Regions from separate parts of the Homo sapiens genome. Here region 2 is linked to region 1. The links come from fine-mapping of genetic effects on gene expression. Tissue or cell type: blood mononuclear cells. Region 1 holds a variant in brackets; the other region holds the start of a gene. All regions are shown on one strand. Distances are between the middles of the regions. Region 1 overlaps LOC101927066 (a long non-coding RNA gene). Region 2 holds the start of TSPYL5 (TSPY like 5).

Region 1 (12,541 bases):
GGGACTCTGCATCAGGGACAGAAGGGGAAGGGAGAAAGTGTGGTGGCTTTGTTGTCCCCTTCACACCCCACTCAGCATCCATTCACCTTCTCTAAGAGCACCCTGATCCCTGATTTCCTCCTGGTTTGAGTTGTAGTGGGATGGTAAGCCCAGGCACCTGCCCTCCAAATAAAGCAATCAAAATCTCCTTCCCCCAGAGCCTCCCTCAGTATCCCAGTGTTACAGGGGACAGGCATGGGACCACACTCAGTAGCAGGGGCTTTCTCATCTCTGCATCTTGAGTCCGTGTCCCTAGGAATGGTGATATGTCCAGAGTCCTACTCCCCTGTGGTGGCACCCTGGGCATGCAGTCCTGCTAGAATTCTACTCCTGGGGCTTTGCTTCCTCATCCTCTAGGGCTTTCTCACCTTTTGCTTGTCTCCTAGCCTAGTTTTCCAACATTCCCTCTGATTCTACAGGCACCTGATCTACCTCCCCATAACCCCATTCCCCTGGCCAACCAGAGTCACTTTATGTTGCTTGCAATCAAAGACCCCTAAGGATACAAATTTGTGCACCAATAATCCTCAGCAGATGTAGTAAATACTTAAACTCTCACCAAGTCCCAGAAAGAGGAAAATGTTTGGGGAGAAGTGGGAATGGCAGGGGAAGAAATCCAGGAAGTCTTTGAAAAGGAGGAGATGTCTAGGGATTGGAAAGATCCCCTACAGGGTCAGGAATGGCCTAAACACTTAAGCAAGTGCAGACAGGGACGCTTGTGCACAGGTGGAGCAGCTGCAGGGAGGGGAGAAAGCAGAGTGTGTCCCAGGCGCCCCCTCTGCCGCTGCTTCTGCAGGACAGCCACAGCTGGGTCCCCCCACTGCACCTTCTCCCCAGAACTGAGATGCAAATGCAGCCACAAAAAAGCTGGCACCCACCCCTTCCTTCCACCTCTGGGCAGGGGCCAAGGGGAAAGGGGCTGGGGTTTCTCAGTGGTGACAACAAAGCCAAGCCAAGGAGGCATATGTGGCAACCTTGCATCCTCATAAGGGTCTTTCCTGAATGCCCAAGCCCAGAGCTTCCTCTGAGCGTACCTGGGGGCCATTGCAGCATTGGGTTCTAGTAACTTCTCCCCCTCTCTGCCGCTCCCTCCCCGAGCTTACTGGAAAAGTTCCCTCTTCATGTTTACAATTCTCCATTTCCCACTGGGCCATAATGGCCCATGCTCCATAAGCATGGAGACTATGCTTATAATGCTCTGCATTAGTCATTTCCACAGAGATTCAAGCAAAACAGCAAATCCAAGTGAATTAATTCTGACAAAACTCTGGCAAAGAAAAAAAAAAGGAAAAAGGGCCAATTGCTTATTATAGTCCTCAAAGTCAAAACGAGGGGTTACGGCAACTTATCTTGTGTTCCCCAGTGTCAAGGACAAAGGTGAGATAAGACTGATCCTCCCTTATGCCTGCCTCTTTCTTCACAAGGAGATTGGAAATAAGGAAGGTCTGGGAACAATTTGTTCAAGGTTTGAGCTGTTGGCTCCTAAACAAGGAGTGTTCTTGGGGAAAAACATTATAATGCAATTGTGACGAAAATCTCTTTTCAGTAGATTTGCAGAACATTAAATCCACAGACGGTCTCAGATGCAGTCCCTAGTTGATGAGAACAGAGCGGCTTTTGAATCTGAGTTTTCTCCCTGCCGTACCTGAGAACCCTCTCTTTCCATTTGGGGTGCTATGTTTGAGGTTTGGCAATGAAGTGGCATTTCCTTAAAAGGAAAAGAAAATACATATTTTGGTGGCTACGGCTCAGGTAGCACACGTTTCCAGAGGAAATGAAAGTCTTTGAAAGGAACGTTTGCCTCCTTCAGTATAAATAATGTTGATCTGTCAATGTCTTAACCTCTGTTTGGTGTTTAATGAGCAAAAATATATCTTTTCAGACATGGAGCACACTGGATCCTTTTTAGTGGGCCACACTGGGGTGAATAAAGATGAAAAGAAAAGCGTTATTGTGACTCCAGTGGAATACAGTGTTCTTTACGCAATTATTCTGAAGTTTGGATCCAGGCTGTTCCTAGGGAAATACCAGCTCCTTCACCGGTATTTTTCTTTTTCTTTTTTTCTTTTTCTGCCTGCAAATCGTAACCCCTAGAAATTTTAAATTACTTCTTCGTGCTTAACAAATTAACTAATTAGATGATTTCATTTGGACATTGCATAATATGGTAGAGTTGGGGATTGGTCAAGTTCCTTGATTTGATTTGAGAACCAGTTCCAGGAGTTACTGGCTGATGGACCTCCTGAAAGCCATTTTTCCCTTCAAAGCCTCAGTTACCACAGGCATGAAGGGGGGTGATAATACCCACCTCACCCCCTTCAGCTGTTATGAAGATCAAATGAAATAATGAATTGAAAGTGCTATAATGCAGATCAAATAAAATAACAAATTGAAAGTGCTTTGGGAAGTACAAAGCATGTCACGATTAGAAGAGAGGGAAGGAAAAGGGAGTCATGGTTTATTGGGCACCCAATGCGTACCAAGTCTTCTGCAAACTGACTCTCGCAATAGCCTCCTAAGCCCTCTCTACATCTCCAATCTTACCATGCTCGCCCCAATCCAACCCGAATGGCATCCAAAATGACAGAAATCAGATCATGTCATTTCCAGCTCTAAAATCCTCCTGTCTCCCATTGCAATTATAATAGTATCCAAGCTCCTTGCCATGGCTTTATGAGGCTCTACCTGACTGCCTCCTCTCTCCCCAGTGCCTACTTCTCTACTTGGTCATACTGGTTCTTCCCATTACTGGACCATGTTCAGCTTCTTTCTGTTTTGGGGCCTTTGCACATGTCTTAACCTCGCCAATCCTCTTCCTCCTTTGCAATTTGCATGTCATTTGCTTCCTCTCAGCTAGAACTGCCATATTGACCAGACCTGTTAAGTAATATACATCTCCAGGGGGTGCCATTCACATAGACTACAGTCTGCACGACAGCACATGGTGGCCCTGTTCTCAGCCTCCAGCACCACTCCTGTTATACCCTTGACTTGCACTACACTTCTCCTTCACAGCAATTTACACATTCAGAATCATTTATTTGTTAAATGTCTATTTTCTCCACTAGTCCATCAGGGTAGGGACCATGACTTCCCTGTTCACCTAGAATCCTCAGCACCTACAACAGAAGGTACTCAGTAAATGTGTATGGACTGACTTTCCATGAAGTACAGATGAGTACATATCATGCTGTCTCAACACAAGGTCACTAAATAGGCATGAGCATTGAGGCTTGGCAAGTATCTCAGCAGCTTCCCATCATCCATCTCCATCCCCAGTGCCAGCATTGACCTGGAAGCTAAGAAGTCCTCCTATACCACAGACCAGGTGTAGAGGACCTCAGAGGAAGAAGGGCAAAGGGCCACTGGGAACTGAGTCCTGCCTTCTGCTGCTAAGAGACACATCACTGCCCACTAGAAGTATTTAGTGTCTCTCTCCAGAAATGAACTATTCCAAGGAAAAGTATATGAGAACAGACTCTCAAGTTCTGAAGAGCTGAATTTTAATCTTGCCCTATAATGGGTGAGCTGATGATTATTGGCAAGTAATTATAAAATGTTCTATCCTTTATCCTTGCTAGGATTTTTTTAATTAAACAAGTCACTTTATAAGTAGAACCCTGAGCTCTAAGGCAGAATGACTCTAATAATGTGATGCAGCAGTGTTGTTATACAGTCGATTAATAAACCTCTCAAAGTATGTGGTTGCCATTGCTTCCCTCTCACCTGGGTCTTAGCTGTAGCTAGCTTCAGTAATAACTTGTTGATTAATCAATCACAAAGGATTTAGAAACAGAAGGTGATGTCTGCTCTGTGTTTTGCATAATATTAAAATAAATAACCCTAGCAAACTCAGTGCTCTTTTTTGGTGAGACCTCATTCATTGATTCTTAGAGCAAACATTTATCAAATGTCTTCTCTGCACCAGGGATTGTGTTATGTGTTGGGAAAGATGCGTTTCCTGCCTTTAAGAACCTCACCAGCTAGTGCAGGGGGTGGGGGGAAAGAGCGAACCAACGTGCAAGCAAACAATTGCAAGCAGAAGGTCAAGTCTGTTCTGATGGAGGTATGCACAGCATCCCACGGCAGCACAGCGGGGAAGCCAATCAACTCTGCCTGAGTGAGAAGACAATTCTCAGGGATACCATCTTAGACAAAGCTACTCTGCATCTCATGTAGACACTCAAGGGAGAAGAAGGTGGGAAGGCTTTCTGGAATGTATTAGTCCGTTTTCAGGCTGCTAATAAAGACATACCTGAGACTGGATAGTTTATAAAGAAAAAGAGGTTTAATGAATTCACAGTTCCTTGTGGCTAGGGAGGCCTCACAATCATGGCAGAAGGCAAAAGGCATGTCTTACATGGCAGCAGTCAAGACAGAATGAGAGCCAACTGAAAGGGGAAACCCCTTATAAAACCACCCTATCTCCTGAGACTTATTCACTACCATGAGAACAGTATGGGGGAAACCACCCCCATGATTCAATTATCTCCCACCAGGTCTTTCCCAGAACATGTGGGAATTATGGGAGCTAAAATTCAAAATGAGATTTGGGTAGGGGCACAGCCAAACCATATCATGGAGCTACTCCTGGGCAGTGAGAACCAATCAGATTCCTTCCAACTTCTAGTTATCCATTTAAATCTGATTCCCATCATCTGAGTGCACACAGACCCACAGGAAGGAGAACAAACAAGGAACTGTTTGCAGAATACCAGCCCAGGCCCTCTCCAGGTAGACAGGAGGTTTATGGGCAGCAACATCACTCCAAATTCCTCTTGAATGAGTGAGGTTTGGCAGGGGGCACTCTGCCTAGTGCATTTTTCTTCTTCTTCTTCTTCTTTTTTTTTTTTTTTTTTTTGTAAATTTGTGTATTTCTGACGAAATTTAATTCTTAGGAGTCTCACTTGCTTACATTCCAAAATGCCATTTTTTATTCAAGGTATAAGAAGCCTCTATACACCCTTTCTTTCCAAAAATGTTAGATTTTTAAATTCCCAAAGTCCAGAATGTAGGCTCCAGATTTAAGCCTGGAAAATCAGTGAAAGTTTGAGTTACAAGTGCTCTCATCTCTGACTCTCTGGGACTTCCACAGGGCTGGTGGTGACATGGTATAAGGCCGTGCAGTGGACAGCAAGCTTGAGCTGGCTGTGACCATCGCATCTAGATTGGAGTTGGGGGCTGGCTTTTGTTGACCAACTAAAGTTCCATGGAGCTTTAGAAGGGCTGGATAGATCAGAAAATATTTTGATAAATTTCCTGGAGGAAAGATGAGAGCCAAGGAAACAAAGGAAATAGCTAAAGTGGTCCACACTAGAAACATAAGTGACCAACAAACATATTTAAAAATGCTCATCATCACTAATCAGAGAAATGCAAATCAAAACCACAATGAGATACCA[T/C]CTCATACCAGTTAGAATGGCTATCACTAAGAAGTCAAAAAACAACAGATGCTGGCAAAGCTATGGAGAAGAAGGAACACTTACACACTGTTGGTGGAAATGTAAACTAGTTCAGTCGCTATGGAAAGCAGTTTAGAGATTTCTCAAAAAACTTAGAGCTACCATTTGATTCAGCAATCACATTTCTGGGTATACACCCCTCCAGAATAGATAATTCTGCCAAAAGACACATGCACTCCTATGTCTATCACCTAGCTATTCACAATAGCAAAGACATGGAATCAACCTAGGTGCCCATCAGTGGTGGATTGGATAAAGAAAATGTAGTACATATATACCATGAAATACTATGCAGCCACAAAAAAGGATGAAATCATGTCCTTTCAGCAACATGGATGGAGCTGGAGGCCATAATCCTAACTAATTAATGCAGGAGCAGAAAACAAAATACTGCATGTTCTCACTTATAAGTGGGAGCTAAACATTGAGCACACATGGACACAAACGTGGGAACAATAGACACTGCAGACTACTACAGATGGGAGGGAGGGAGGGGGTATGGGTTGAAAAACTACTTATTGAGTACTATGCTCCCTACCTGGGTGCATTATACCTATATAACAAACCTGCACATGTACCCCCTGTATCTAAAATAAAAGTCAACATTAAAAAAAGAGAAAGAAAGAAATGGGCAGAAACCAGGGGGCGGGGGAGTGAATGAAAAAGACAGGAGGGAAGATGGGAACAGAAGAGTTGAGGACCAAGCAACATGAAGGGGTCCAAGGAACCTTTCGAAGCAGAATTGGATGACACTGTGTTTGAGTCAGTTTCTGATGCTATGGTACAATTCCTTTCATCTTTCCAAGCCTTCAGTAATGTCACCTACACACAAAAAATGCCTGTGGGAGAGGTTTGTTTCAGGAAAGTTAGCAACTGAGTTACTTGGCAAATGTAGTGCAAGGTCAAACATAGACTGAAATAAACAGACCTACCGAATCCCTCAGCCTCCTCCTCTGTCCTTGTGGCATTTATCTCTTTGCTGCTTGGGCACCATATTTGGGTGAGACAATACGTAAATTGATTAATTTAGTGGAAGAAGGAGCTCAAAACCCAAGGTGACCGACCACAAGCATGTAATTTACCCCAAAATTCCTGTGACTCTGGAGGAAGTAGTTGGAAGTTCCATAACCTGTAGTTCAAGGGTGCAATAGTTTGAATGTTTTTATCCCCTCCAAAACTCATGTTGAAACTTAATCCCCAATGGAACAGCATTGGGAGGTGGGGCCTTTTGGGAGACGTTTAGGCCATGAAAGCTCTGTCTTTGTGAATGGATTAATCCCACCATAAAAAGGGTTTGCACAATATATCCACATCACGTAATGGGACTAGCTTACCACCCCCCCCACCATACCAAACAAAGACTGCCAGCACTACAACCAACACCTGCATTCGTCAAGCACCAACTGTGTTGTGTACCCAGCACCATTCCAGGCAATATGCAGATATCCACTACTTTGAGGTAGTTATTCTTACATGAGCACAGGGGTGCTTAGAGAGCAGACATAACCATATATAGAGGTCACTCAACAATTCTCATAAACTTAACTTTTGTTTGGTCTGTTCTTTTGATAGCAAAAACTGTTTATTAGTTCTGCCATCTGTAGCCTGAAGTATGGAAAAAACATAGGTTTTGGAGCCTACCTCTGACACTTTCTGTGTTAATTTGGGCAAATTCCTCAACCTCTCTGAGCCTCAGTTTCCATCACAGATCTAACACTTTCTTCCTTGCAAGATTAATGTGATATATGTAAGGAACCTAACACAGCTGTTGCCATGTAATCAGCACTCAATAAATCATAGCTACCATTTTAAAAAGACAGTGGCTGGGGAGTCTTGAGGGAGTTGAGAAAGTGTGTTGGCTCTCTTCCACTCTTCTACCAGGTGAGGAACAGCGTTTATCCCTCCTGAAGGATGCAGAATTCAAGGTACCATGTTGGAAATGGAGACCAGGTCCTTAGCAGATACCAACCCTACTGGTTCCTTGATTTTGGACTTCTCAGCTTCCAGAACTGTGAGAACTGAATTTCTTTTCTTTACAAATTACCTATTCTCAGGAATTCTGTTATAGCAGCAGAAAATGGACTCAGAGAGTTTGAACAATCTCCTTTTACCCCTTAAGGGGCAAAGAGACCCCAGCTAAATCTAGGTCTAGAATTTTATTTTCTCATTTGATCATGTAATAAATAGAAATAATTGTCCTATCTTCCAAAGGAAAAGGCCCAGAGGGTCTTTTATTTCCCTAAGTCCCATACCTAATAAGTAACAATCCAGAATTTGAATTCAAGTCTTCAGCTGCAATTTTTAAAAATGTTTTGTTTAGAAATTTTTATAGACTTACAGGAAGTTGCAAAAACAGTGCAGAGAGGTCCAGTGAACGCTTTATCCAGCTTCCCCAATTTTGGGGAATTCTTCTGCAATTTAATATTCTTCCCTTCACCCACTGAATTTAGGGATGAAGAGCTGAGCTGCAAAGATGAGTTTTGTGCTACAGCAGCCTTTTTAGGTTTACAGATCATCAGGCCCTGGGTCTCTAGCTGAGAATCAGAAAGTAAACAGACAAAGAGTTCAGCCTAAAGAAGTTCAAGTCCCAGAGCAGTGGATCTCAACCCTAGCTGCACATAATCATTATCTGGAGAGCTGTTTAAAATACAGGTTCCAATATAATCAATTAGTTCTGGGAATTAGGCTTCCATGTTTTCTGAAGCTCCTTAGGAGTTTCTAACAGGCAGATAGGGTTGAGCTGTGCCATTGGTACTAATAGGCTCTAAAGTGAGCCCACCCTCTCATCAGAGCATGGTGTCAAGCGACTCTCCTTCCTAAGATCCCATCGCTGACACCAAGATACCTATAAGAGGATCCTGTGAGTGGAGAGGCTCCTGGGGTAACCTGGCAGGGAAATTTGTCTATTGTGTTTACTGAAAGGCATTGTAGTACTGCCACTCAGAGCTGTGCTTCCCTTTCTGAAACAGTCAAGCAGTTCCGGGCACATCAAAGGAGATTATCATTCCTCTGGCACCGGCTTTGTTTTTCGCTGCCTCTAAAAGAAACAGGTCCACTTATCTCCAGAATGCTTTCCCAGAAAGCTCAGTCCCTGCTGGGTGAGGTCACCGGTCCACAATTTGCGTCCATCACACCTTGTAGGAAGTGAGGAGAAACTGACTTGCTTTGTTTTCCAGCACCGGGGAAACAGATTTCTTCTTAAGCTTCACACAATAAATTGTATTAAATCCTTTCAGCAGGGTTTCCATGGCTATGTGAAAGGAAAATCATACAGTAATTGTTTTAAATAATACAGCAAGGCAAGCTGGAGAGTACATCTTAATTTTTGTCATCTGTGCTGTGTTCCTGTTTGTACGGAAATGTTCCCGAGGCAGAGGAAAGGTTTCTGCATTCACTGGGAGTTGCTTGGTGAATGTAATGCAAGGTCAAATACAAACCAAAATAAACAGACTTACTGAATCCCTCAGCTTCCTCCTGTCCATGTGAGCCCCAGGGCTTGTCTGCTTACTTTAAGTGGGAATTAGGATGGCATTTATCTCTTTGCTGCTTGGGCACTAAAACTGAGCCTTCGACTGCATAAGCCTGATTCCTGCTTCTCCCTCAGTCCTCCATAAGGAGACAGAGTTAGACGTCTGCCCTAGACAAAGGCGATGCCTGAGAGGAACCTTGAGTATAAATTTGTCCCCCAGCTGCCTGGTACCTGGGGAATTCTGCAGGGTTAGGTCTTTCCACCAGTGTTAGCGCAGTCATTTACAACAAAACATCACGCATAACAGTCAAGGTCCTGTAATCCCAGCACTTTGGGAGGCTGAGGCGGGTGGATCACCTGAGGTCGGGAGTTCAAGACCAGCCTGACCAACCTGGAGAAACCCCATCTCTAGTAAAAATACAAAATTAGCCAGGTGTGGTGGCGCATGCCTGTAATCCCAGCTACTCGGGAGGCTGAAGCAGGAGAATCGCTTGAACCCGGGAGGTGGAGGTTGCAGTGAGCCAAGATCATGCCATTGCACTCCAGCCTGGGCCACAAGAGTAAAACTCCGTCTCAAAAAAAGCAAAAATAAAAAAGAGTCAGGGTCTTCATAATGGACTGTCCAAGATTCTGAGCCCCAACAACCAGGCTGTTGCAAACTGCCTACCCTCTCTGAGATTTCATTTCTTCATCAGTAAAACGAGGACGGTGAAACCTATACACCCAGAGATTCTGGCTCTCAAATCAGGTAAAGGATATAAAGTGCCTATCCTAGTATCTGACAAAGCATCAGGGCTCAATAAATAGTAATAGTGTTTTGTTACCATTATCATTATTAGTATTTGGTTGTAGAAGAGACTGCCTCTCTCATAATAAGGTGAACCAGAGGGTTGTTGCCTGCCTGGGTGGTATCCAGATTAAATTCAACAACTGCCACTGAGCCCCTTCCAGATGTCACAGAGCTGGCTAGTGTTGGGAAATTGGCAAAAGTCTGCTTCCTCCCCTGAAGGAGCTCTCAGTCTAGAACTAGGACCCTCACCAACTGATGCTGATGAACATTACACTCAGATTGTACTTGACCATGGCTGGCCCATGTTGTGCGATTACTCCAGGGAGAAAGCAGTTCCTAACTTAGTCCTAAACAATCAGTTGGATAAGGAAATAGAGAGCTCTATACTGTCACTGACAGAAAATGTCATGTTGGGTCCCAATCCTCTGTAGGCAATTCAGCTTCTAAAGCAGGATACAAGTAAATTCCCTCAGCCAAGCCCCAAAGAGAGTCAGGGCAGACTGCACCCCAGGGCCTAGTCCTTTGACCACAATGATGCTGATGAGAACCTCATGTGGCCGGGAATGGGGAGGTGGAGGAAAGAGAAGATAGGAGTCGAGGAGGCAGAGCCTCACCAAGCAAGTATGAGATCACTTGGCAGACAAACCAACATTGGAAGGAAAAGGACATTGGCCCTAGTCACAGTCTGCCATTTTGAACTCTGGAAGTTTATTTTAGCTTTTTTTTTTTTTTTTTTAACGTTTTACAGCATGGACAATAAAAAGTAAGAGAACACATTAAGAAGATTCGCCCACACAGAAGTCATCTGTGGAGCCAAAACCAAGACATAGTTGAGATGTTTTGCTTTAATCTGTGCCTGTGAGAGACACTTGCTCTGCAGGCCCCATGGGAGTTGTGGAACAGACTCACCAGATTCCAGGGCTGCCTGAGAGTGTGCCAGTCTATGGCCCCTAGATGCCAGTGTGGCCCTGTCCTTCGGTGCCTCTGGTCGGTGGCTTTTGCCTACAGTTCACTAGGTCAATCCCAAGCCTATCCCTTTTTCCAGATGCAGCTCATGACTCACTCGCTTCCCTGTTTAGAACTTTTTCCCAAGGTGGAGTAGGTTGATGCCAGAGTTGGAGCCCCTCCTCTGCACTCCCATGTCGCCCTCTACTATGGTACTTACCCCCTAGCCATACTTCCTGTTTACCTGTCTGTCTCCCCTGCTGGTTCATGAGCCCCTCATGATCACAGGGGAGGAACCGTCTCTTAAGTGTCGTGCGTCCCCAGAGCATAGCACAGGGCCTGGTGCATAGAGGCATGCAATAAATGGTTGTTGAATGAGTGAATGCCTATATAAATAAATGAATGGGTGACAAAGCTCACTGAGCACATCAGTATGGTGATGTGCTGAACATCAAGACATTCCTTTAAACCTCTCAGCTGGGGTCTAGCCTCTTTAAGTTTGCCCTCACCCCATGTGGAATTCCAGCACCCACTCACCAATCCACATGCACATACAGTGGACAGCAGCAGCATCTTAGGCCTCCAGGGGGCTTCAGAGCCCCTGCTCCTTCTCTCTAGGCTAGTGCCTCTGGTCTCACTGTAACAAGGGCTGGGTCTGCTCACCTGCTCACTATGACCTTAGTGAGCTAGGCCTGCTCAGCGCATGTGGAGGTGGTACGTGCCGTCTATGGAACCATAACAGCCCCATTTTAAAAGGCCAAGTGTTTCTATTTCTTTTGAGCCCAGGATTTTTTCAGAACATTTCCCCCATGAATCAAAATCCCCTATAGTCCATTATAGAAAAATGGACAGCAAATACAAAGATGCTAATGACCTAACCTTACTCTCAGGTCCTTAGTAAAATGACCAGATTCTTAAATTAATTCTTCCCACATGGCCACAAGCATCTCATCTACCTTTCAACAAAAGCAGATGACTCACACTGGTTTACTAACCATAGTAACTACCTACTGACCCACTTTCTGTCACTATATTGTCGCTTTTCATACATTCTCTCTTTTAATTCCCATAACAAACCCATTAGGTGGGTTCTGTTTTGATTCCCATTTTATAGATGAGGAAAATGAAGCTCAGATATTTTAGGTGACTTGCCCACAATCACATAGTTGATAAATGATGAACTTGAGATTTGAAACCATGACTGTTGACCTCTAAGATTTAACCTTATCTGGTTATCTCTTGTTACATAACAAACCATCATCAAAATTTAATGGCTTAAAACAATTTACTATGATCTCTCATGGTTCTGTGGATTGACTGGGTCAGGTGGGAAGTTTTCACCTATAGTCTCTCACGCAGATGCAGTCAGATGGCAGCTGGGGCTGCAGTCACCTGAAAGCTGAACTGGGCTGGATGTCCGAGATGACAAATCATATGGCCACCAGTCAATGTTCACTGAGGACTGGGAGTTCTTCTGGGGCTACTGATTGAGCATTTATATGTAGTCTGTGTGGTTTGTGCTTCTCACAGAATTTAGAATCCACAGGATAGTGGGATTCTAAAAAGGAGTATTCTAAGAGAAAACTTTTCAAGAGATCCAGGCAGGAACTGCAAGGCTTCTAATGCCCTAGTCTCACAAGTCCCAAACTTCACTTCCTGTGTATTCTATTGGTCAAGCAATTCCGCAGGGCCAGCTTGGATTCAAGAGGAGGGAGATAAGACAATAACTCTTAATAGGAAGAGGGTCAAAGAATTTGCAGTCATCTTTGTCACTGTCTGCTCTCTGATTGCATATTATTTACATTCCTCCCACATGGTAAATACACGTGTCTCCTC
Region 2 (12,541 bases), 47 kb after region 1:
GAGGAATTCAAGACTCGAGCGCTGGATGGCCAGTAGCTGGACACCTGACAGGAGGTTCTAAGGCCAGAGTTTCAGGTGAAAGTGAATGAGTAGTAGTGAGTTGTGGCCCTGAACAGTGAAATATAGTTGGAGAAGATTCCAAAAGCAGGAGTGAAGACACTAAGGGCAAATAAAGATAGAAATCATGGACTGGATAGCCTACGCTGTACTTTTTTATTGTTCTAACACCTGAGGGATATGACCCTACCCATCAGTTATAGTGGCTCCCCATGGCTGGGGACTTTTCTGAATCTTCAGAGGAGCAAGCGAATTTGCCAAATTTCCCTCCCTAGGTGGTTCTAACGTGCCTCCTTAGGGCAGTGTTTCTCTTTCCTCTGTTGCAAACCACTAAAGTAGACTAGAATGAAGAAGCCCAAAGTGCAAGAAGAAATAGACAGTCCAAAGCTGGTAGAGATCTTTGGTAAGCTCAGGGTGGCAGGACCATTTTATTTTTCTCTCCTCCCTCACCTATGGCCTAGCACAAACCTACCACATTTCCAAAAAGCCCAGGAGGTAACAGTGAAAAAATCAGAAGAGGGCTTTTTATAATAAAAGTCAAAGCTAAAAGGGGGGCCAAGGACTCTTGACTAGAATGACCCAAGAGGCCCTCCCTCTCCAGGTTATGGAAGGCCTGAGTCCCTTGTGAAGTCTGACCTAAAGGCCAAAGGTGAGGGAGGCTTCCTTTAGCCCCCTCTTCAACCCACATGGACACCTAAAGCATTCACCAGCCCCATGCAGGAAAATGGAAAAAAAGATTGACTGTCAACCCCAGGTGAAAGCTAAGAAGAGACTGAAGCCTATGGCAGGTGGGTGGCGGGGTGGAGTGCAGGTGGGGGAAGAAAAATTCAAAGTTGTATTTGTCCATAGCTGTATCTCCAATGTCTACACCAAGGACTGGTTCATATAAGAGGCAATGAGTGAATGAGCCCATGGAGAAGTAGTAAATCCCAGATTGAATGGGTTGTCCAAGGAACTGAAGAGAGGTATTTGAAAGAGGGCCTGGACAACAGAGGCTCTGCACCCACAGAGAAGCAAGTGCATAAATGAAATTGAACTGGGCAGAGAGCCCCTCCCAATTCATAATCCAAGCAGACTCTGAGTGAATCCTGAGAGGAAGATCAGGCCTGGAGATGCTGCTCTCCATCCCTTCTGCATTCCACATATCAGAAAAACTCCAAGGGTTTAAATTATGTTTAACATGCAAAATTAGGAGATTCTACATAAAGATACTGTTGATAAACTGAAGATTATTCCTACTCAAGTCAAGAGCTATATGTGAGCTGGTGCATTCTTGAACCAGACTGCCTGAATTTAAAGCCTGGCTCATTCATTACCAGCATGATCCTGAACAATTTACTCAACCTCTTTTTACCCCATTTCTTCAACCCATCCCCTCATTAAGAGATAATTATCACTTGTTATAAGGACTTAATATATTAATCCTTGTATAACGCCTGCAACAGTGCCTGGCACATGATATGCCTCAATACAATTAACTACCATAACATGTGAGGCACATATGTGTCAAAAGAATACAAGTTAAGATGTTGTGAGGGGTTAAATTGCTCCTGCCCTCACACCAAATTCATATGTGGAAGTCATAATCCCTAATACTTCATAATGTAGCTGAATTTAGAGACAGGGTCTTTAAAGGGTAATTAAAGTTAAATGAGGTCATTAGAGGGGCCCCAATTCAAGATGACTAGTATCCTTATAAGAGATTAGGATATATATACACACAGAGACACACACACACACACACACACACACACACACACACACACACACACAGAGACCATGTAAAGACAGAGAGAGAAGAAAGCTATCTATAAGCTGAGTGAGGCCCTCAGAAGAAACCAACCCTGCTGATACCTTGATCTTGAATTTCTAGCCTCCAGAACTGAGAAAATAAATTTGTTGTTTAAGCTACTCAGTCTGTGGTACTTTGTTATGGCAGCCCCAGAAAACTGATAAGATCTTCTTATGAAACAAATGTGGCCCACTTCACAAATTACCAAATTCAAATGCCCTCAGGCATCTGAATATAAACTGCTTTAAATTCATTCATTCATTCAACACTGTAGCACCTACTATGCCCTGAACACTGCATGTTTATTAAAACCCTTCGTCATATAAGCCAATTTTATTTTCTTGTCAGTAACCACCCACTTCTAATTTTGTCCATTTTCTGCTGGGCAGCTTAGTGTGCCACTTGGTTGTCTGCCACTGCTTCTCCTGATTAATGGGAAATGATCCTTGTTATGGATCTGAAATGAACAGCATCAGAGTATGTAGTTCTCAGCTCTGGCTAAACACTAGAATCACCTGGGAAGTTTTAAAAATACCTACACCCAGACCTATCCCTTACCCCATTCTGATTTAGTTGGTCTTCGTGTGGAGCTCTGGCAGTGTTTCTGTAAGCTTCCCAGACAATTCTAGTGTGCAACCAAAGTTGAGAACCACTACTTAAGTTTAAAAGGGACTTCAAGGTCACCCCCCCTTTCCACTCAAAGTACAGTTCACAGATCACCAGCACTGTCATCATCTGGAAACTCGTTAGAAATGCAGAATCTCAGGTTCCATCCCAAACTACTAAATCAGAATGCATATTTTAACACGATTCACCACACAATTCAGATGTACTCTAAAATTTAAGAAGCACTGTATTCCTACTAGAATCTAGATGATTCATAGAATCTAGATTATTCTAATGGGAGTTCACCGCTTCTGAATCAACTAGAAAGCATGTTAAAAACTAAGCTACCTGGCTTCCTCTCAGATTCATAGAATCTCAATCTTTGGGTAAAAGGCCTAGAAATCAAAATTTTATGTATTTTTGTGTAGCTAGTCAGGGTCTGCGGTTTGGGAATCACTTATCTAGGGCAATGTATATATTCTCTCAGCTGCCCAGCCTCTGTTTAAAAACCTTCCAATTCTTTTTTGAAAATCAGAAATATAACAGAGATACAGGTTTTTATTTTTCCATCATGCATGCAAACTTACAACTATTTATACTGTTTAAGAACACAGAAATAATTGCGTTATTAACAGGGTGTCAAATTACCAAGTAGAACAACCAGTTACTAATTATTTTGGGGAGGTTATTTTCACAGAACACAGCAACAATTTCCAAATTATTCTTCCAAAACCAGAGTTATGAGACCAGTACAAGCTGATAACAATGCTAATGGTCACACAAGTTTCCATGTTACACAGAAAAAAAGATTGACATTCTGGTGAAGGGTCTCAAGTACCTTACCATATCAGAATTTTTGAAAGAGTTTTACAACAGAACAGTCTCTCTCTTGTTTTGTAGATGCAAGGGAAAGGAAGCATCCCTCTCATTTCTTTTTGAGACTCCTTGTTAATTCTTAAAACACATTTCTAAGGCCCATCTCTGGAACTTCATTAGTTAACATTAAAAGCAAAAAGCAGACCTGATGTGATTATGATAGTGCACCCCATCACTATCACCATCAAAAGAGACTACCAATCTCCCAAAGTAGTCACGGTTGCATTGGCATAGTGTCTTGGATTTTCAATAAACAATACAGGTGAAAAGAGAGAGATACAGATGAAACCAGGTTGACCATAGCTGATAAGTGATGCAGCTAGGTGATGGACACATGGGGTCCAAGGACCATCCTCTCCACTTCTGTGCATGTCTGAAAATGTCCATAACACAGAGCAAAAAAAAAAAAATAATAACAAAAAACAAAAAAGCAGACTTGCACATCTGTATCTTCCCATTAGACTAAAATGGGGAAAGTCGTAAGACTTTAAAGGCAAAATGTGCAGCATATAGCATTCTTCTGCATGTACAAAGCCACACCTAGAACAAAAAAATAAAGCATCCAAAGTAACATTATTCCGTTTCTGGTTTGTCTCTGTGGCTTATAAAATCTACTAATGATAAGATTGGACAAAACTTTGGGAACATCCTCAACTAGGCATCCTATTTGTTCATAACCCCTTCAATTCTCATTTTCCAAGCTAGGGAGGTCCCTCCCATACTCTATCACTGAGAGACAGGCATGCTCCCCCTGCGGCTTCTCAAGCCATTTCTGTCTGATTTTGCAGGCCCACTCCATACCAGTATCATGCCTACTCGACGGTTTTGCTCCAAATCCCCCACCTAGCACACCCTTGCTACAGCTTTAAGCCAAGGACTCTCTTGAGGAACTTAGAATGAGGCCTCCCTAACAAAAGAGAAGGTAGGGAAGAACAGGTGTAGATACAGTCCTTCTTACCCACCCTCAGGGATAAGAGAGGGAAAGGCCCAGCTCTGCTTTTACACCCACTGGAAATAACCCGGAGATCCAAAACAGATTCTGCCCATCCCAATCCCCATCCCCCAGGAGAAGCTTGAGATGCTCCATATTGGAGACTAAAGCCCACTCCTGGGGCTATTTGAGGTAGAAGCAAAGAGAGCAAAGGACTGCTGAAAGTGGGAAAGCTGGGGATTGAGGTCCAGATGGCCAGAGGCTACCACAAAGGAGGAAACAGCAGGAGGCACTTGGGTCTTAGGAAGCATTAAAACAAAGTCAAAACAAGAGTAAACACTAGTCTATGACATGGCTGCCTTGGGGTTTATAACTCAAGCAGATGCTAGGCATGAAAAGGATTTTCAACTTCAGAACTGTAGAGCAAGCGCAGGAGACAGGTTCAGGGTTTGCCAGCAGATCCACTTGGCCTTCTGGTTTCCTCAACTCTCTTTCAACCTAGTATGTGTGCGCAGTGCCAAGTTCTCAGCTACCTCCCCAGCTGTATGTAGAAAAATGTGGTTTTTCAGTTGTTTTCTCTGTGGTACTATTTAAACAAAATAAAAAAGAATAAGGAAAGAAGGAAGGGGAAGGCAGAAGGGGAGGAAAGGAGGCTACCAGGAAAGGGAGGGAGGAAAGAAGAATGAGAGGGAGGAAATGAGGGATGAAGGCAGGCAAGCAAAATAAGAAGTATAAGTGACCTGAAGTCAAGCAAGCAGAGGCCCACAAATCAGAAATACCTCTTCCCAGAACCCCTACTATGGCACTCTGCTCACATCTTAGACGGGAATAAGGGAAGTTGACAATGGTATCTGGATTCTATATAGGCCCAGTCCTCACCCTCACCTGGAGCCACAGCATAATGACAGTGAACACATGTCCACACATACCAGCCCGCCCATCAGTCTGGCAGCCAGTAGGGTTCCTGGAAAGCTGGGGAGGGTAGGTGTGTGTCTCATGCACTGGTAGGGGGCCTCGGTCCACAGGCAGTTCTTGAGGTCCTTGTTGACCAGGAAGCCAACTGGGGCTGACAGCAACCCAGACAAAACTTAATGGCTTGATAGTGACACGGCATGGCGCAGATCTTGATGAAAGTTCACCAGTAGAAGGGCCCAGAAGCAAGAAGAGACACATGATGGTACAGAACACATGGCATACTGTTTCTTGCCCTTAACTTCATGCATGCCCAGCAGTCAAGTGCCATTCTGCAGAACATCAAGCAGGATGGGTATCACAGACCACAGGCCAAAGCCAGAAATAAAGCAGGTGACATCTCAGCTGGTGACCCCAGACCCACAGAACAGGAAGTTCTGGCTGATGACTAATACCATGTGCACTGGCTTCATTCTGCAGTGGCAATGGAAACGCTTGCATAGATGACATGCATGGCCAGCATGAACACGAAGCCCAGCAAGTCACTGGCCCTGAAGGAGCAGAGCTTGAGGATGCACTGGTCGTCCTGGAGGATGACTCATGAGTGTCCATGTTAAAGACAAGTAGGAAAGGCCAGAGCCAAGAACAAGGTCCAGGCAATGTAGATAACAGGGAGCACACATCTAAAGTATGTGTGCTTAACATATGAACAGTCCGGGTGCGATCACATAACATGTGACACTAACGTAGAAAAGCAAGAGGCTATGGGAGGCAAAAGAACATGATCATAAATGCCATATTCTTGTAACTAAAGTCCAAAGGGTCTATAGTACACAGAGGCCAACATGAAGAGAAGGCAGAGAGCCAAATATGTAGTCAACCAGGAGCAGCCCAGCAGGAGGTAGCAGGGAGACTTGTGCAGGATCAGTTGGATTGGCTCACCCCAGGCTGAGTAGTCTCCATTGGCTGCTTTCCTGGACCTTGCCTGCCTTCTTTTTCCTTTCCTTTCTCTACACGAGCCCCTTCACTCAAAAGGTAGAACTGCAAGGGATTGGGCCACAATTCTTCGTTGATTATCTCCACAATCTTGTCAGACTCAATGGAGCTGTGGTTTGAAAACCACCCAAAGAAACTACGGTTGTTTTCTGGGTTTCCCTGGCTTAGGGACTGGAGATCATGCCCTGGGAGCCACTGGATTGGAGTAGAACGAGACACCACCTGGCCAGAAGGACCACACCCATATTCCTTGATGAGCACCTTATTTTGGAAATACGGGTTGCGATCGAAGTAGAACTTGATTTTGTAGCCCAATCTGGCAAGGCCGAGCTCTTCCACTTCCAAGCTGTTTAAGTAGCTCAGTACCTCTTTCTCTTGGCTATTCAGAAAGGATGCTAGCTGGGGATGGTTCTGAAATGCTTGCCCCCAGAAGCCCGGGATATTTTGGATGAGGTGGTTCCTGCGCTCCAAGTGCTGCAGTCGCAACTGCCCAAACTTCCTGGAGAGCCGAAGGTAGGCCCTGTCCGCCTGGGCGTTCATGTTCTCCAGCTTCAGCTGCACGTTCTCCAGCGTATCCATGCTGCCTTCCGTCGCTGGGGGCCCCGACCCTGCATCCCTCTCTTCCTTCTTTTCCTCCCCAGCTGACACCGAGGTATTCTCCCCTGCCGCCCCTTTCTTCTGCCTCCCACCAGCTATGACCTGAGGCCCCCTCCCCGCGGTGCTACAGGTTTCTGGGGCCTTCTTCCCGGCAGGGCCACGCCGGTTTCCAACGCGGGGGGCATTTTTCGGCCTTCCCACGGTTCCCGCTGTTCCCACGAAGACAGTGTCTGCGGCCAGGCGCTCCGAGAGAGATGCGGCCTTCCCCGGGCCGGGCCTGGCCGCGGCCTGCCCGTGGTCCCCCGCAGCTCGGGCCCGCAGCGCGAGGCCACAGTCCAGGGGGAGCCGGCAGGCGGCCTCCTCCCCGAGCCGGAGGAGCTGCGCGGACGCAGCGGCTTCCAGGCCACCCCACCCCGCGCCAGCCTGCACCTGTGCCGCCTGGGTGTCTTCCCCGAGACTCTGGTACTGTGAAGGGTCCGGGTCGCGCGGGGCGTCGTCCGGAGCAGGGCGGACTCGGGCTTTGGCGCGGCCTTTGCCCCGGTTTTTGGCGCGGGAGGACTTTCGACCCCGACTTCGGCCGCTCATGGTGGCGGCGGAGGCAGCTTCAAAGACACGCTGTGACCCTGCGGCTCCTGACGCCAGCTCTCGGTCGGGACCGAGCGGGTCTCTCCACGGCAACCGCCGACGTCACGAACGTACAACTGTACCGTCGCGAGAGGACGTGATGCGCCCGGTGATTGGCGCCGCCGCTGCGGCTGCGCAGGAGACGACCCCCGCGGGCGCTCCCACCCCCATCTCGCGCGGACTCGCTTTAGGTCTCGGCGAGTTTCTCTGATATGCGCTCGCGGGGGTGCTGCCATTTCATCTCTTCCGCGCGGGCTCATCGTGCTCTCAGGGTCTCGTTGAACAAGGCAACGCTAAGAGCCATCACCACCTGTCCCCCATCACCTGTTTTCTAAACTAAACATCTTCAGCTCCTCCAGTTATCTCTTGTGGCATCTGTCATGAAGAAAGTGCTCGGGCGTGTGTGTCTCTCTTTGAACACCTTTGCTGAGGGATTTGCTCTGGTACCTTAACTCCAGAGAACGTAAAGGTGGATGCTATAATGCCGGGCGTCAAAGCGATTTGGTACGCAGTAAGATGATAGTAGAAATTATAAAAATAATGGCAACTAGTATTTTGTATCATTTGTGCCAGGCACTTTACTAGGTGCTTTAAATGCATTATCTCAATTTACAAAGGAGGTGTTGATATCATTCCCATTTTCGAGATAAGAAAACTGCATCTCAGAGACACCCGGGCACATTCCCCAGGTTACACAGTAAGGGATGGAAGCACAATTCAAACTCAAGCCCATGGGACTCCGTATCCTATGCCTTATATTTGGAAATGGCAAGTCCTTCCAGACTTGTTCCACTGTCAATTACTGGGCTGGCTCTTAAGAAATCAGCCTTGCTCCTTAACAAACAGGCTTCCGTGGACCACCTGACCACCTCTTCTGCCTGGGAACATCACCCGAGTCCCCCAGCTGCCTCAGTTTACAGATCTGGACTATCACTCTAGGTATAGGACCAGAAGTGAAGACCTGTATTAGAGCTCCTGTAATTGGAGTAAGACAAGAATGTGGTGAGAGGTGAAATTATTATTCAGGGAGCAGATTGAGGTTCAGAAGCAGAGCCTCCACGTGGCACTGCAGAAGCCCTAGAAACTTCTTACACTGTGCATGGAAACAGCCGGACAACCTCCCCCACAGTCCCGGAGGCAGCCCTGGACCACGCTCTTACTAGTGAGGTAATAGGACCATGAACAGTGAGGGGACCTGTGGCTAATGTAAAAATATAAAGAAAAACCTTTTGAGGTGGTCTTTTCAGGCTCAAAGGGAACAAAAAGGCCCTTGTAACCAGCTAGTGGAGAGATAAGCCCAAAAGCCCCGGGACCTCATTACTCAAAGTGTGGTTGTGGACCAGCAGCCTGATATCACCTGAAAGCTTGTTAAAGATGCAGAATCTCAGGCCTTTCCCCAGACCTACTAAGTCAGAATTTGAATTTTAACAAGATCCTGGGTGATTTGTATACACCCCTAAGTTTAAGGAAACAATTTAAAGAGGAATTATTTTTATACAGATGGCCCTATTTTAAGCCGGCCTAATACAAGTGATTCCTCATTTTCTCAAAAGCTCTAGAATAGCCTGCAAGGCCCTGTATGATCTGGCAAGTCTTCTATCTGCCACTACATGAGTTACCTCTCTGACCTCATCTTCTCTCTCCTCTCTCCCACCTCTAGCTACACTGGCTTCCTTGCTGTTCTTAAACTCACTAGGTAAACTCCTGCCTCAGAGCCTTTGCACTGGCTCTTCCTTCTACCTTAAATGCTCTTTCCCAATGTGGTTGGTGGCCTTGGCCAGCTGCCTTCACACTTTGCTTAAATGTCACCTTCTCAATGACCATCCTATTTAGAATTGCCACCCACCCCATCCCTTTATCCTATGGTACTTTTTCTTTATTCCAACACACTATACCAATTATTTATTATGCTTATTAACTATCTCTTCTCTCTAGAATGTCAGCTCCATGAGGGAAGAGATTTTTGTTTTGTTCACTGATGTATCCTCAGTGCCTGCAACAGTGTCTGACATATCAAGAGCACTTAATAAATACTTGTTGAAAGAAAGAACCAATCAAAGCAGAGTTTTCAAAAATGGGTTTGTAAATGATTGTCTGAAGTTCAGAATAGCTCCCCTTTTCCCACAGAAGCAATGCTATGGATGCTGTATTCTCAGATCAACTCATGGAAACCTACTAAACTCATAATTTAGCCAAAAAATTATCTTTTGTTACAGAGCACCATTCAGGGACAGTCTGTAAGTAAGAATTTAGAGTGACAAATTTAAAAATTAAGTTGGGAGATTTAATATTTGACTTAAAAGGGATTAATTAGTGCAAGGATTATCTTAAATTCTTGTTGAAGGCCCTTTCATAATAATTTCTTCCCAAGGCCTTCTGTGATCACCCCAGACCACAATAAGCAGCCTTGTCCTTGATCTCACAGAGTACTTGTTAACTATAGTATTCATTTGGCAGTGGGGCACACCCTGTTTTGTACCAGTTCTTTTACAAAATTACCTCTTAAGCTAGATAATCACAGCCTGAAACTCTCCGTAAACCTCAGAAAAAAAATTAAAAAATCATCTGACGCATTTGCCAACCCTCTATAGACTTTAGACATTGATGGGTTGGCCCACTTCTTAGAACACTCACAGATCAACCCATCTCTGTTGTCAAGAGTCTTAATCCAGCGTCAGCATCTGCGTCATGTAGCAGTCACCAATGGCTAAACCACTGTAGGATTAACACAGGGCTGGGCCATTGCAATGTGTTTATTATACAATCTGCCTTGAGCCTTTTTTCATCATGTCAAAGAGATAAGCATCAGATGAAGGGAAATAATTTAAAAAAATACCCCTCTGCTCTAAGCCACCCAGTTCCCCATGGCTTTTGTATTTAAGAGTTTGGTCTGTGCTGCTGAACTGGACTGTGTTTTCTTCTTGGGTCTTAATATTTAACTTTATGTGGAACTGTAGTTTGTGTTCCTAATTGGATAGTAAACTGTGTAAGTGTGGAGACTGTGTCTCTTTTTACTTTTATCTCTCAGAGTACCTAGCATGGGGCCTTGCACATACCAGTAATTATAATGAAAGTTTACATTTATTTCATACTTTTATATAGTGCTATGCCTTAACTCATTTAATCTCTGCAATCACCCCATGGGGCAGGTGCAATTATTGTTCTCGTCTTGGAGGAGGTTACTGCCACACAAAATGGTTCCATAACTTGCCCAAGGTCACACAGTTAATAAATGTTTTTTGCCCAAGCGATGCGACTCCAGCACCGTGCTCTTAATTAAAAATACATAATGTAAAATTATGGCTTAAGAGATTAAAACTCTCTCCAGTGGGTAAAAATACCTTTTAATGTTAAAAAAATTATATATATTAAAAATATATATACACACACATATGCAGATGCATACATATACACATAATACATACATCATTTAGTTATGAGTCATTTATTTATGGGGTATACAATATACCTGGCATAGCAATACTCAACATAAATTTAGTTTCAACAGCCCATGATGAGAACGAAGCATCTCTATTTGCACTGCATTTATCATAAGCATCCTGTTAATATTATGAAAGAAATGCAAGTTTACTGTCATGAACTCAGAGATCCTGGAGTGTTGTGAACTTCTTGCAATATCTGCAGGCTTAAGTTGATGGTAATATAAGCATTTAATTGATTATTTCTAATGTAATATTTATTAGCAAATATTTATTAGAAATTCATAAAATATTTTTCAAATGTTTATGTGTATTATGTCTATATGTATGTATATGCATATGTACTTGTGTGTATGTAATTCAAAATATTAGAATAAAAAATCTTCACTTTTGTTTTCTGCATATTGTGCTTTCTCCGTTCCTTTTGATATGTTTTCTTTGAATCACAGAAATTTACAAGCTGGGAAAAAGACATTTGTCATCCAGCCTATTCCTCAGCCAAGGGAACAATATTCCCCATCATTTCTCTCGTAGAGCTTTAGGATCCCAGACTTGACATTTTTAGCCACAGCACTTTTCTATTCTTCCCCAAGGAGAAAGTTTAAGTCTGTTAGATAGCAGTGAGTATTGCTTACTGTGTGGAATTTTGCCAACCAACCCTCCCAGGTTACCAAAGGGTATGGAAAAGAAGGCAGTGTCCTAAGAAATATTTTCATAGTCAAGGAGGGAGGGAGAGAAAAATCTGCCTCTTATGATAAATTTCAAGACTATTTGAGCTTAACATCTTGAGAAATTTGCCTAGCTTCTTGCCAGTTCCTCGCCAAAGAGGAAAATTTTATGGTAGACCACGTCACTTATTTCAGATCATATCCTATAAGTAGCTATAAAATATTTTAAAGTATTGCCTGACGTATTCTTTCTTCTTGGCATTTCCTTTTTATCCTGCAGCATCTTAACCATTAAAAAAGATCTTAGGCTAAGGCTTTTGTTCTAGAAAAGGGAAAAAAAAAGCAAAGAACCCAGCAAGCAGAATTTCAGCCAGTCAAATTCTTCACTTTGAATTTCAAAATTGGCTCTTAAGAGGGTAAGACACAATATCATGGAAAGAGAAAGATATATATATTTGATATATATTTGAAGAGCTAAATGTGCGCACGCACACACTGCCTCTACTCTCACTGTGTGTGAGAGAGAGAGAGAGACGTGTGTGTGTGTGTGTGTGTGTGTGTGTGTGTGTGTGTGTGTATTTAGCTCTCCAAAGATAAGTCCTGGAGCACTAATAGCATAGAGTTTATAACATTAACCGTAGAAGAGGAAAAACATGATGATATACAAGCCATTTCTCTGCTACACAAAGAGGAGCTAAGAACCTTTTCTGGTCTGGAGTCGAGGAACTTGGAAAAGATTCAGAGAGTGAATAGTTGGTGTAGGGTCTTGAGAAATGCTTCTCACGGTGACCACACAGTGACCACCACATGGGTCAATACCCTTGGAGCATTGGTAAAGACAACCTTCTCTGGACAAGACAGAGGTATGGGAATAGGGAGAATTAGTTCCTAACTTGACAATTGAAACTCACACAAGAAAGGGCTTTTCTCAGAGGGCTCCATACCATCAAAGGGCAGCCAAGACAGTATAAAAGTATGTATAGGGTAACAAAGAAAGTTCTGAAATGGCTTCTCTCACCCTGTATGCCCCCCACTCCCAATC

The links. PIP is the estimated chance that this variant, and not a neighbour inherited with it, causes the effect.
Region 2: TSPYL5 starts here. The variant in region 1 is fine-mapped to the expression of TSPYL5 in blood mononuclear cells (TOPMed, PIP above 0.99).

What each region holds. Positions count from the first base shown.
Region 1 is chr8:97,223,879-97,236,419 of GRCh38, forward strand. All of the region lies in intron 2 of LOC101927066 (a long non-coding RNA gene), which reads right to left. Among named protein-coding and RNA genes, the nearest start is that of TSPYL5, 48 kb to the right of the region's middle. RefSeq lists an enhancer at 8,147-8,754. The variant T/C (reference allele first, on the strand shown) is at 5,442.
Region 2 is chr8:97,270,493-97,283,033 of GRCh38, forward strand. It overlaps TSPYL5 (TSPY like 5), which reads right to left and starts at 7,436. Exons shown (of 1, transcript NM_033512.3): 1 at 2,996-7,436. The coding sequence starts at 7,352. The coding sequence ends at 6,099. All of the region lies in intron 2 of LOC101927066 (a long non-coding RNA gene), which reads right to left. RefSeq lists an enhancer at 6,473-6,974.